Linked DNA regions of Homo sapiens: region 2 is linked to region 1. The links come from fine-mapping of genetic effects on gene expression. A gene starts in region 1. The other region holds a variant in brackets. All regions are shown on one strand. Distances are from middle to middle. Region 1 holds the start of CDK3 (cyclin dependent kinase 3). Region 2 overlaps ACOX1 (acyl-CoA oxidase 1).

What was found.
Region 2: its variant is fine-mapped to the expression of CDK3 in whole blood (TOPMed, PIP above 0.99). The same link has a PIP of 0.9 or more in blood mononuclear cells.

What each region holds. Positions count from the first base shown.
Region 1 is chr17:75,999,549-76,002,415 of GRCh38, reverse strand. CDK3 (cyclin dependent kinase 3) reads right to left here and starts at 1,561. Exons shown (of 8, transcript NM_001258.4): 1 at 1,449-1,561; 2 at 875-1,004; 3 at 465-542; 4 at 274-394; 5 at 1-168. The coding sequence starts at 990. TEN1 (TEN1 subunit of CST complex) reads right to left here. Exons shown (of 4, transcript NM_001113324.3): 4 at 1,830-2,275. The coding sequence ends at 2,154. TEN1-CDK3 (TEN1-CDK3 readthrough (NMD candidate)) reads right to left here. Exons shown (of 10, transcript NR_037709.1): 4 at 875-2,275; 5 at 465-542; 6 at 274-394; 7 at 1-168. It overlaps LOC124904061 (a long non-coding RNA gene), which reads left to right and starts at 1,856. Exons shown (of 2, transcript XR_007065911.1): 1 at 1,856-2,611; 2 at 2,780-2,867. RefSeq lists a silencer at 1,675-1,754 and an enhancer at 1,885-1,934.
Region 2 is chr17:75,974,139-75,977,043 of GRCh38, reverse strand. The region is part of intron 2 of ACOX1 (acyl-CoA oxidase 1); the gene reads left to right. Among named protein-coding and RNA genes, the nearest start is that of ACOX1, 3.6 kb to the left of the region's middle. The variant A/C (reference allele first, on the strand shown) is at 1,226.

The sequences.
Region 1 (2,867 bases):
ATGGGTGTAGGTGCGCAGGGGCACCCCGAAGGCGCGAGCCAGGCCGAAGTCAGCCAGCTTGATGGCACCCAACTCATTGATGAGCAGGTTCTGGGGCTTCAGGTCTCGGTGGATGACCCGATGTGAGTGGCAGAAACTCACCCCCTGCAGCAGCTGGAAGAGGTAGCTCTGGAGAAACGAGCGCGAGGTGCAGCCAGCTGAGCGGAGGTGCTGCGTGGACAGGGATGGCAGGGATGGGGTGTCACCTCTCCTTCCCTGCCCTTCCTTCCCTACCTTGATGAGGTGCAGGGGGAGCTCTGAGCCTGGGGTGGAGTCCATGTACTTCTTCAGGTCCTGGCTGAGGAACTCAAACACCAGATAGAGCTTCCTCTCGTTGTGCACCACGTCCAGCAGTCTGACAGGGAGATGGCAGTCAGGATGCTACCTTCGCCATCCCAGCTTCCCCACCTCAATCCCCAACTCACCGGACGATGTTGGGGTGCTTCAGTTCCTTGAGCAGCGAGATCTCCCTGATGGCAGTGCTTGGGACCCCCTCCATCTCCCTGCAAGAAACAAGGGCACAGCCGTGGGCAGAGACTTGGGCCAAGAAGGGCACTTCCAGCCAGGGGGATCGGCTTCTCCTTAACCCCACAGAATGACCAGGGCCCCGGCAATGGAGACCTGTGCTCCTTGGCACGTCATCCACCAAACTCCACAGTCAGGGCCCCGGCAAAGGCTGGTCAGAAGGCAGTGAACTGGGGAGAGGACAGGTAAGGGCTGCTGGGCAGCACCCAGAGGAGTTAAACGTGGACTCCAGGAAAGAGGGAACGGATCAGGGAGCGCCCAGGTTGTGATGGCCCAGGGTGGGTAACTCAGGGGCCGTCCCAGCACTCACAAATCCAGTCTGATCTTCTTCAGGGCCACCAGCTGCCCTGTCTCCCTGTTCTTGGCCTTGTACACCACCCCATAGGTGCCCTCTCCGATCTTCTCTACCTTCTGGAACATATCCATGGCCACAGAGCTGCCTGGGAAACAGAAGGCACCGGGCAATTTGCACCCCACGCCCAGCGCTCCCGTTGCTCCTCCAGCTTCCATGTGGCGCCCTGCCCAGCCCAGCCCAGCCCAGACTGCCCAGCTCCCAAGGCCCACGGCCTAGCCACCCCAACCCCAGCTCATCCTGCCTGGGAACCTGGCTGGGGGTCGGAAACCGCCCCTCACCCAGCCCAGCCCGGACCCCAAGGGGGTCAGGGGGCCCCCTTCACCCAGCCCAGTTCAGCCAGGACCCCCAGGCTTCTCGCCCATGCCCGGCCTCGGAGGGCAGGGCCCACACTCTCCCACCCAGCCCCCTGCCCATCCCAGCCAGAACCCCCAGGAAGTCAGAGACCACCCCTCGCCCAGCCCAGCCCAACATGGACCCCCAGGCCTCTCACTTGTGCCGGGCCTTAGAGGGCAAGACCACCCTTTCCCACCTGGGTCACTGCCCAGCCCAGCCAGTCCCAGGCTCTGGGTACACATGGCGGCCAGGAAGGGCTGCCCAGGGGCCAGGGCCACTGGGGGCAGAGGTCAGGGGTCAGGAGGGTCTTAAAGCCACAGTCCTGTCTTAGGCTGCACGGTCAGGGCCCAGGGCCTCAGCCCGGCCCGTGTGACGACGCTCAGCCTCCTCTGAAGGCAGAGCCTGGCCAGGGGCAGACCCCTGCATCCTGGGCCCCCCACCCCAGCCCCTGGGCCCCTGGTGCCCTACCCTGAGGCCCCAGGCCCAGAATTCACCAGAAGCCCTGAGAGGCTGCAGCCCACAGCCTGGGTTGCAGCTCCCCCTCCTGGCCCCCGCCGGCGCTGCACCACGAGCACACTTCAAGAGCACGCCCCCTGGGCCTTTATTCACCAGGACCTTCTGGAACCCTCCATGGCCCCACACCAAGCACGGCCCCGGCGCCCAAGCTCGGCCACCTGCAGTCTCCTGGGGTGGGGCTGTCGGATTTATGGCATGCTTTCTGGGTTCTCATTGCTGAGCCAATCCCAAAGTAGGGGAAGGGGCTGGATTCATCACCCGCCCCTCGGCTTTCGAGCTCCAGACAAGGCCGTCGCTGGGGAGGCGTCTGTGCTCTCCCGGGCTCCTGCAGCTCCAGAGGGTTCGGGCTCTGAAGCAGGTGAGGGTGTTGCTAGGCTGCTGTTTCCTACTGGCTGCCGCCCCGCTCCTGCTTGTACAGTCTCTGCTCCCGGATGGCTTGTTCCAACAAGGGCAGGTTCATCCCCTCCACACAGGTCAGCACGCGCGCCTTCACCACGGAGCCTCTGTCTGCAAGACAAACACCAGGGCACGAACGGCGACTGAGCGGCGTGTCAACAACGTCCTCCAAGGTGCATTCCAGCTGTTCCCTCCACAGCTCAGTCCTGGGTTTTGGCAGCAAGTGATGTGGACAATAACAGCATATGGGGCAAAGGCAACTGAGTATTTGGGCCTAGAACCGTGGGCCTGTCATGCACAGTCGGCCCGTGTCTGGAACTTAGCAGGTGGTCAGAAAACCCCTCTGGACTGAGGGAAAGGCCCCCTTGGCACCTTGGGACACAATGTCATCAGGAACCGGGGAAAAGAGACACCCATATTTTAAAAATCCAAGAGACTGAGCTCCCGGTAAGTTTGGCTTTATAGGAGCAGGTCATCCCACCCTGGACGAGGGGGGCTTCTAGCAGATGCGGTGGTGACCTGATACATAATGGAAAGGTTTGCCACTATTCAGGTGGCACCAAACAGGAAAGACATCTCCGAGAGACTTTTTAAAAATTTTCTTTCTTTTGACAGGTGAACTGGCTCACACCTGTAATCTCAGCACTTTGGGAGGCCAAGGCATGTGGAACACTTGAGGTCAGGAGTTCAAGACCAGCCTGGC
Region 2 (2,905 bases), 25 kb after region 1:
ACTGGGCAACAAAGAGAGACTCTGTCTCAAAAAAAAAAAAAAAAAAAAAAAAGACTTTTTTGCCTTAACCTAAACAAACACTATTACATGATCCTAGTACAAGATTATTTTGGCCTATAGCATTTTTTTCTCATTTATTCCTGGGCATTTTCTCTTTTAGGTTTCTCCATTTTAAAGGAACTCCAGTATTTTCATCGGTAAAGACTAAATCGTATGAGTGGTGTATAGACTAGAACCAAGCTAAATAGAACATGTTGCACGTTCTGCCTTTATGGTAATAATGGTCACTGCCTCTAGTGCCTTTGGTATCGATTTTCAGCTTGACTTGGGTTATTTTTGTGAAGATGAAATGGTTTACTCTGGCACTTTGGACTTTCCTCAGAGCTCCACTCAGTTTTAAACGAAAAAATTTTGTTTATTTATTTTTGGTAGTTCAAATCAGCATACTTCCAAATGGTCTGTTTTGTTTTTGAAGTTTGTAACTCATGGCTGTGGGGATATTGAGATAGAGTAACTCCTCCTAGAAGATTATGTTACTGATACCTGTGTTGTGTTTGTAAATTTGAAAAAATTAGTAAGATTTTATTCCTTCTTGAAACGTCAGGAAAAAAGTGGGTTGAGTGTGTGTGTGTGTGTTTGAATGGGTGGTGCAGTGCATTTCAAAGCTGATAGAGATGATTTCATAACCTGTGACCTGTTGATAATGTGAACCAGACTCGAGTGAGGTCACAATGAAATAGAACAAAGTCTTTTATGCGGGTTAAAGATTCATGGACACCGGGAAGTTGTTTTGTGTATCATTTTTCATGTGAAGTATTAAAGTACAAACTTTAACACACCCTTTGACACACTTCCAATGTCCTTAGGATATGACAAGGAGATCAGTTTTTAAGTAAGAGAAGGGGTTTGTAAATGAGTCCTGGAAATTATCGCATGCTATCGAGTTAAAGCCTCGGTTATATAATCTCATCGATTATAACTCACACCAGTGTTTTGTGTACCACTAAGAAAGAAAGAATGCTGCCAGTTAACCGTGACATGCTATTAATTGTGAAATACATCACCTTTCTTTCTTTTCTTTTCTTTCTTTCTTTCTTTTCTTTTCTTTCTTTTCCTTTCTTTTTCTTTCTCTTTCTCTTCCTCTTTCTTTTTCTTTCTCTCTCTTTCTTTCTCTCTCTCTCTCTCTCTCTGCATTTCCATTTATTTCCATTATCAGCAGGTGAAG[A/C]GGCATCTGCCACCTCACCCAGCTAACTTTTGTATTTTTAGTAGAAATGGGGTTTCACCATGTTGGCCAGGCTGGTCTCGAACTCCTGGCCTTGTGATCCACCCGCCCCTTCCTCCCAAAATGCTGGGATTACAGGCATAAGCCACTGCGCCTGGCTGAGAAAACATTTTTAACTGATGTTAATGAGCAGCTTCTAAACACATGATTAGGACGCAGAAGTCGTTCCCTCTGGTGGAATCTATAATGATTACATTAATTCATTTTGATTAATTAGAAATATTCGTATCTAAGAGCATCCATGTTGAGAGTTTTTTGTTTCTAAGTGGATTATGATTTATGTAAGATAGAAAAGACAATGGGACTGGGGCATGGTGGCTCACGCCTGTAATCCCAGCACTTTGGGTGGCTGAGGTGGGCAGATCACTTGAGGCCAGGCCACTTCATGACCAGCCTGGCCAACATGGCAAAACGCCTTCTCTACTAAAATACAAAATTAACCGGGCTTGGTGGCACACGCCTATAATCCCAGCTACTTGGGAGGCTGAGGCATGAGAATCACTTGAACCTAGGAGGCAGAGGTTGCCGTGAGCTGGGATCACACCACTGTACTCCAGCCTGGGCAACAGAGGGAGACTGTCTCCAAAAAAGAAAAAAAAAGAAATGGCGGGGATAACCGTGTAGTACTTATTTAGGAAATAGAAAAATAAGGGTATATTGTGTTTACTATTATTTCTTTCTTTCTTTCTTTTTTTTTTTTTTTTTTTTTTTGGAGACAGAGTCTCGCTCTGTCGCCCAGGCTGGAGTGCAGTGGTGCGATCTCGGCTCACTACAAGCTCCGCCTCCCGGGTTCACGCCATTCTCCCGCCTCAGCCTCCTGAGTAGCTGGGACTACAGGAGCCCACCACCACACCCGGCTAATTTTTTTTTTGTATTTTTCGTAGAGACGGGGTTTCACCATGTTAGCCAGGATGGTCTCGATCTGATGGTCTCGATCTCCTGACCTCGTGATCCACCCGCCTTGGCCTCCCAACGTGCTGGGATTACAGGCGTGAGCCACCGCGCCCGGCTACTATTATTTCTTTTAAGGTGGTAGTTTGGTTTCAGGGTCCCCCAGCACTGCAATGGCAGCCTATCCCTTCTGTCCTTTAGTTCATGCTCTGCTCATTGCACAGGTTAGGATAAACTGGTAGTAACATTGCTTCCTAATCATGTGTTGAGAAGTCGTGAAGATCAGTTAGATGAGATGTATTTTGTACTTTAAACTTTTTAGATACGAGCTTTGTCAAAGTACAAAATTGATCCCTATAAAATCTATGACACAGCACAGCCAAGGCCAACTACTGTGGATTCTGTTTTGTAAGAAGAGAGTTGAGGACTAAATTTCAATGTGATGTAGAGTTAATCCGTAGTAATGTTCATTGACCATTGGGGATAAATTTTTACATGCCCACATTACTTATTGTAAACCCTGAAGACCTTTAGCGATGTATGATTCTGCCCTGGAATATGTATTTACTCTTTTGGATATTTGCTTATATTATCTAGGGAAACATAGTTGAAATTATTTCTTCCTTGGAGCTCTTGTTAACAGCGCTATAAATAAGTGTTCTATGGAGTTATTTTTGCTCTTTGAAACAAACAGGTAAAACCTAAATAAAGCAAAAAAAAAAAACCACACAC